Homo sapiens: one gene and its partner. The protein of the gene in region 2 purifies or fractionates together with the protein of the main gene of each other region. This does not show direct contact. Each region holds a gene or a part of one and is shown on either strand. Other genes may lie near its edges. The genes, in order: GSTA2 and STEEP1.

Region 1 (3,823 bases), on a different chromosome or scaffold from region 2:
AGAAGATCATCGGTGGTCACAGTCATGAGAGAAATTGGTGGAATCACTGCCAGTACCCACTGATGCTGTGCCAGGATTTATCATCTCCATTGTGGTTTGTTCTGTGCATGAACTTAGTGTGAGTCAAATGGCCAAAGACCTGCTTCCTAAGTAATCCTAAGAGAGTCCCTGGCACAGCCATCTCAGCCATATTCCTTGTCCTCTCTCATCATTTTACAGCTCCCAGGGCTGCTTCTATGCCCCATATTTGCAGTTCTTCCAATTACACCCATGAAAAACGTTTCCACAGCCCTCTCCATGTGCTGTTGCCCAACTCTAGCCATGTGTGCCTTTCTTAAGAGCCAACCCCTTCCCTGGTGAAATTCTCTGTACAGTTACAACCGTGCAAACTTTTCTTCTTTTGTGTCAAACTGGAGTTTCACAATACTTTTTAAAACAAGAGCTTTACTGATGCATATTCACATACTATAATTGCCACCTCTTATGTTATACTATTGAGTGGTTTTCAGTGCATTCACAGAATTCTGTAAAAATAATCACAGTCTAATTGCAGAATTATTTTTGTCACCTTGATAAGGACATCTGTACCATTAGCGGTATTCTTCATTTTTCTCCAAGCCCCACTCCTTTAGCCCCAGGCAATCACTAATCTACTTTCTACCTCTATGGATTTGAATATCTGGACATTTCATATTAAAATAATCCTATAATATGTGGCCTTCTGTGTCTCGTGTATTTTATGTAACATGTCTTTATGGTTTAACCATCTTGTAGCATGCATTCGTACTTCATTCCTTTTCATGACCAAATATCTTTCCATTGCATGGCTAAGGCGCATTTTTCTCCTCCATTTATTGATTGATGGATATTTGGGTTGTTTCCACTTTTTGAATTCTATGAATATTGTTATTTGCATTATTCACTTATGTAAAATATATAGTGTGGATGTATTTTCGATTGTTTGGGGATATACTTGTTAGAGGAACTGCTGGGTCATCGGTAATACCATATTAAAGTTTTTGAGGAGCTGCCAGCAGTTTCATTCAGGATTTATTTGGAATCATGCAGTCTCATCACAACAACAAGGAGACCCCTTGGCTTTGCTGGTATTGAATCAATCTGGCTGTTTCGGCCTTCTATCCATGTGTCAAGGTAACTCCAGTATCCTTGGTGCCAGCCTCTACTAGCCCTGCTCAAGTATTCCAGTTGATATAATTGGTTGGTAATTTAGGTTCCTGTTCATCATACTTGGAATTACTGGGACCTTAGACTTGGTTTCTTTGCAGCTTTCCCTCCCCAGTCCTTCATCTACAGACTCTCACATATTCTATGCCTGTCCTAAGCCATTGGCCGGGGTCCAGCCTCTGAAGTCCTGAGCACCTGGAAACATGATTCCCCATCCTCCTCAGTTCATTGGGTTTATGAGAGTTTGGAAACCTTTGTCAGGGTGCTGTGTCCATGGACTGCATCCTCTTCTAGAATCACCCTCGCCTGAACCCTCCCCATGTTCACTGTTCCCTCATCTCCATGGGACTCTGCAATACTGGACCTCAGCGTGCATGCCCAAGGCCCAGCCTGCTGCTGGTCTTGATACCCTGCCATGGTCCCACCCACTCAAGGAAGGACCTAAATCACTCTATGTTCTCTGTGGATGGAAGAACAGAAAATATACCGTACAGGGCTTTCTCCTTTATGTCTTTCCCATAGAGGTTGTATTTGCTGGCAATGTAGTTGAGAATGGCTCTGGTCTGCACCAGCTTCATCCCATCAATCTCAACCATTGGCACTTGCTGGAACATCAAATATCCATCTTTAAGAGGAAGAAAAAAAAGGAGAGTGAAGTGTCTATGAAACCCACCATTTCAGGATGAAAAAAAATGGTTGTTGAAATGACTAAATTTGTAAAACGAAAAAGAAATTACTGCCTGGTAAGAGTTCACTTGAAACAACTTTTTTTTTTTTTTTTTGAGGCAGAGTATCATTCTGTTGTCCAGGCTGGAGTGGAGTGGTGTGATCTTGGCTCACTGTAACCTCTGCCTCCCAGGTTCAAGCGATTCTACTATCTCAGCCTCTCTATAGCTGAGATTACAGGCATGCACCACTGCACATGGCTAATTTTTGTATTTTTAGAAGAGATGGTGTCTCACCATGTTGGCCAAACTGGTCTCAAATTCCTGAACTGAAGTCATCCACCTGCCTCAGCCTCCCAAATTGGGATTACAGGTGTAAGCCACTGCACCCAGTCCAAACAATATGTTTATAAAGCTTCCTGTAGTTCTTCTTTTTCTTAAGAAGTTTCCTTTTAGTTTTTATCCATTTATTTCATATATGTTTTTGTTGCCCCTCCAGATACATAGTGGGACTCTTGAATTTTTTGTGTTGATTTATCTTCATGGATATTTTAGGAAGAGGTTGGGACAAGTTACAATAGTACTGGCAACAAGATGTCATTTAAAACAGGATGTTCCCAGAGTAAGTCTCATGGTGTTTATGATATTTAAGGCAGGTTCTGAGAGGTTTTTATATAAGGGTCCCTTTCTGTGCTCTTCAAAGTCTGCGATATTGCTACAGTGTTACCCAGTCCCACTCCCCCCATGAAAGAAAAAACTCAAGACAGTGGCCACATCTATTCCTCCTCCTTTTGTCTAATGCATGTTCTTGCATGTGCTTGGATGGAGAGGGCTGTATGGGATCCTGTGCTGATGACCACTGCTCACTCACAGTACCCCAAGCATGAAAACAAAGAAAGGGCTTTCTCAGGGGTGGGAGATTGTTCCTCTAGCAAATACTCTGAGAGGTCTGGTCCTTTAAGCCTGGAGAGAGTTGCCAGACTTGCTCAAGGAGCCACATCCCTTCCATTTTAACCACTTTCTCCCTCTGCACCATGTACAAATACCATGCCCCACACCCATAGACATTGCCGGCTGCGCAAACCTCCCCGTGTACCTTCTACTAGATACCCTCATTAGAGAAACTTAGAGGTTGATCTTACCATTTCTTAACTTGTCCAAATCTTCTGCAGATTTTATAAATTTCTCTTCAAACTGGAAGCAGAAACAGTAAATATGTTCTTGTTAGTTCATTCTATTATAGACCTGTGAAATTGAATGGCCTCTATCTGGTGCATCATTTGGAGAATATAAGATTTCTGAGTTTGGCAGGGTACACAGAGGGGGCTAGTCATGGCCATTTGGAAATTTAGACCTAATTCATTGAGAAAAGTGCATGGGTCACAGCACATAGCTGCTCAATCTTCTAGTTCACTTCACCTCCACCTTGATATGAATGTCTATGATTAGGTCATGTTTTGAGAGGGACATCACTGGAGAAAAGGCACTGAGCAGTTCTTCTAGTTATGGTGTTGTCATATCTTAGGAAAGCCTGTGTCTCCAAGTGAGATCAGACCACAACCTTGTGTGTCCCCAGCATGAGGCATGACATGGGCTAATGGCCATCAAATATTCTGCCACCAAGGAGCCTCTGCTGTAATTTGTATCGCCCCACTTCTCAGGAACCCTGCTAAGGGTGACATAGGTCGCCACTGTTGCACAGCTTTCACACTTGCAACTGTAATTTTCTCTTCTGAAGTACGTGAGACACAATAGGGTAAAATTCTCAATTTAATAAAGGAATTAGGGTCCCACACTAGCATTATTTTTAAGGAAAACCTCTGGTTTCTGATGTGGTTTTGTGGCATTGGGGAATGCTTGTGTGTTCTAGAAGCCTCCTCCCCTCATTTTAACCACGTGTTTATTTCTCTGCATCCTCATAGACACGTAGGCTGCCCCAGGGCAGGGACTGTGTCTGTCTTGTTCACTATCTC
Region 2 (3,823 bases):
CCACAATGATCCCTAAATGAAATCAGATGGGGAGGAAGGAGGAGTCCTTAATGGATTGGGCTAGACTCCTCCCCACTCAGAGCAGCTTTCTGCTTATCAGTCTTATTTATACTTCTGGGTAAGAATTTAATTAAAGAAAGGATTTTTCATCTAAAAATGTTTCAAAGGCATTGCTATAAGTGATGAAGGGTCACTAACAGATTTGAAGCAGGTGACTGACATAATGTGTATTTCAGATAATTCAAGCAGTAGAGGATAGACTGGAGGAGAGCAAAACTAGAGACCAAAAGACCAGGTAAGAGGCCACTTCAGTAGTCTAAGTAAGTGATTTTGGGTACTGAAATAACGGCAGTGCAGCAGGGCTGAACAGGAGGCAGCAGCCACAAAAGAGATTAGAAGGCAGAATCGACAGTACATGGTGAGTGACTAGATGTATGCAGGGGATGATGGTGGGATGGTGGGGACAGATGAGACAAAGAGAGACTGACTCCTAGATTTCTGGCTGGGGCCACTGCATGAATCCTGGTGTCATCATAAGAAGAAGGAAAAGAAGGACTAGCATTTGGCTAATAGTAATAGAGACCTGACTGCAATGGCTTCAACAAAAGAGCTTGTTCTCTCATGTAACATCAGGAGGAAGGCAGTTCTGAGCACTGGTTGAGACCCAAGGATAGCAGGGCAAAGGCTCTGCAATTCTTGTGGCCTCTCCTTCCCAGTTCCAGGCTGGCTGCTAGTGTTCCAATTATCATGTCCATTTCCCAAGAAGCAGGATGGAATAAGGATAAAGGGTAAAAAAGGCTTGAAGTCACCCATCAGCTGACATCTACTTCCATCTCTTTTGCTTGGCCAAAGCTAAGTCATATTCAGAATCTTAGTTGTTGGGGGGAAGGGGACTGGAATATGCACCCTAACTTTACAGACACTCGTGTATAGGAGGGTGTAGCAGAAGAGTGTCAGAGTACGCCTGTAATCCCAGCACTTTGGGAGGCCGAAGTGGGCGGATCACGAGGTCAGGAGATCGAGACCGTCCCGGCTAACACAGTGAAACCCCGTCTCTACTAAAAACACAAAAAATTAGCCGGGCGTGGTTGCAGGCACCTGTAGTCCCAGCTACTCAGGAGGCTGAGGCAGGAGAATGGCCTGAACCCGGGAGGCGGAGCTTGCAGTGAGCTGAGATCACGCCACTGCACTCCAGCCTGGGTGACAGAGCGAGACTCCGTCTCAAAAAAAAAAAAAAAAAGAGTGTCAGAGTGGTGCTGAGCGAATCGATCTGTGGTACTGTCCACAGTAGAGAAATGATAAGTTTGGCCTTCATCATGTTGGATCTGAAAAGTAGGACATCAGGTGAAGAGGTAGAGTAGGCAACTGGCTATACAGTTCTGGGACACAGGAAGGCACAGTAGGCAGATTTAGATTTTATCATCAGCATAAAAGTGTAACTAATGCCATGTAAGGTGACAAGAATGCCCAAGGAAGGCATAAAGAGAGTGGGGACAAAAGCAAGGTCAGAACCGCATGGAATACCAATACTTGAGGGGCAGGCAGAAGAAAAAGAATCCAAAGGATTGAGAAGGCCAAAGAAGGAGAAGGAGGCTCACAAGAGCAGCTTCACGTGTTGAAACCCTGTCTCTACTAAAAATACAAAAATTAGCCAGGCATAGTGGTGCACAACCGTAATCCCAGCTACATGGGAGGCTGAGGCAGGAGGATCACTTGAACCCAGGAGGCAGAGGTTGCAGTGAGCTGAGATCGCATCACTGCACTCCAGCTTGGGTGACAGAGCGAGACTCTATCTCAAAAAAAAAAAAAAAAAAGAAAAGAAAGAAAGAAAACATGTAGCTAGATGTCAGCCTATAGTTTTTTTCTGGTTCAACACTAAAGTTTCATAAGGGCAGGATTCTTTGCTGTTTACTGGTTGTACTGGGTTAGATAGTGACCCTTAAAAATTCACATTCTGGCCGGGCACAGTGGCTCATGCCTGTGATCCCAGCACTTTGGGAGGCCGAGGTGGGAGGATCACTTGAGTCCAAGAGTTTGAGACCAGCCTGGCCAACATGGTGAAACCCCATCTCTACTAAAAACACAAAAACTAGCCAGGCATGGTAGCACACACCATCTCAAAAAAAAAAAAAAAAAGAAAAAAGAAAAAAGAAAAAAAAATCCACATCCATCCAGGAACCTCAGAATGTGACCTTATTTGGAAATAGTGATGTTGCAGACATAATTAGTTAAGTTAAAATGATGTCATACTGGAGGAGGATGGGCCCTTAATCCAATATGATTGGTGCCCTTATAAGAAAAGAACAGGCAAAGGGAGAATGCCATGTGATGATACAAGCACTGACTGGAGTGATGCATTTACAATACAAGCCAAGGAATGCCAAGGATTGCTGGTAAACGCCAAAAACCAGGAATGAGGCAAGGAAGGATTCTCCCCTACAATCTTGAGAGAGAGCATGGACTTACCAATACCTTGATTTCAGACTTCTAGCCTCCACAACTATTAAACAACTTCTCTTGTTTTAGGCCACCCAATTTGTAGTACTTTATTTTTTTTTTATTTTTTGAGACAGTGTCTCACTCTGTCGCCCAGGCTGGAGTACAGTGGCACAATCTCAGCTCACTGCAACCTCTGCCTCCCCATACAAGCAATTCTCCTATCCCAGCCTCCCGAGTAGCTGGGATTACAGGCACACGCGCCACCATGCCCAACTAATTTTTGTATTTTTAGTAGAGATGGGGTTTCACTACGTTGGCCAGCCTGGTCTCGAACTCCTGGTCTCAAGTGATCCACCCACCTCAGCCTCTCAAAGTGTTGGGATTACAGGCGTGAGCCACCACACCCAGGCTGTAGTACTTTACTATGGCAGCTCTAGAAAACTAATACACTGGCGGCCGGGCACGATGGCTCACGTCTGTAATCCCAGCACTTTGGGAGGCCAAGGCAGACAGACCACGAGGTCAGGAGATCGAGGCCATCCTGGCTAACACGGTGAAACCCCGTCTCTACTAAAAATACAAAAAAAAATTAGCCGGGCATGGTGGCAGGCGCCTGTAGTCCCAGCTACTCGGGAGGCTGAGGCAGGAGAACGGCGTGAACCTGGGAGGCAGAGCTTGCAGTGAGCCGAGATCGCGCCACTGTACTCCAGCCTGGGTGACAGAGCGAGACTCCGTCTCCAAAAAAAAGAAAACTAATACACTGGTATATATTCCAGACTTCTAGGATAGTACCTGGAACATAGTAGGAGCTCGGTAAATGAAATATTTGTTGCATGAATGGATGGATTTTTTAATTCCCTAGGATTGACCTTTCCATGACTTCTAGCACCTGCTGCTGACCGTCCCCTAGCCACACCCCCACACACTTCTTGATACTCTCTCCTATTTTCTGCATCACCAGGTTCTTCTGGTTCTGTTCCAATTCTTTTGTCTGCCTTTTAAATATTCAGTCCTATCTGCTTGCTCCACACTCTGTAATTTTATCCCTTCCCAGGTTTCAATTTCCCATATATACCAAACTCCCAAATCTAAAACAGAGCTAACCACATCACACCCCTGCTTAAAAAACAGAGATAGGCCGGGCGCAGTGGCTCACCCCTCTAATCCCAGCACTTTGGGAGGCAGAGGCAGGTGGATCGCCTGAGGCCAGAAGTTCGAGACCAGCCTGGCCAACATAGTGAAATCCCATCTCTACTAAAAATACAAAAAATTAGCCAGGCGTGGTGGCAGGTGCCTGAAATCCCAGCTACTCAGGACGCTGAGGCAGGAGAATCGCTTGAACCTGGGAGGCGGAGGTTGCAGTGAGCCAAGATCACACCATTGC

What was found.
Region 1: the proteins of STEEP1 (region 2) and GSTA2 purify together in Homo sapiens (affinity purification with mass spectrometry; one large-scale study listed by BioGRID and IntAct). This does not show direct contact.

What each region holds. Positions count from the first base shown.
Region 1 is NC_000006.12:52,753,266-52,757,088, forward strand, and holds part of GSTA2 (glutathione S-transferase A2), read right to left. Parts: intron 3,045-3,823; coding exon 2,993-3,044; intron 1,811-2,992; coding exon 1,678-1,810; intron 1-1,677. UniProt on the Homo sapiens protein: Catalyzes the conjugation of glutathione to a large variety of electrophilic compounds.
Region 2 is NC_000023.11:119,555,360-119,559,182, forward strand, and holds part of STEEP1 (STING ER exit protein), read right to left. Parts: intron 1-3,823.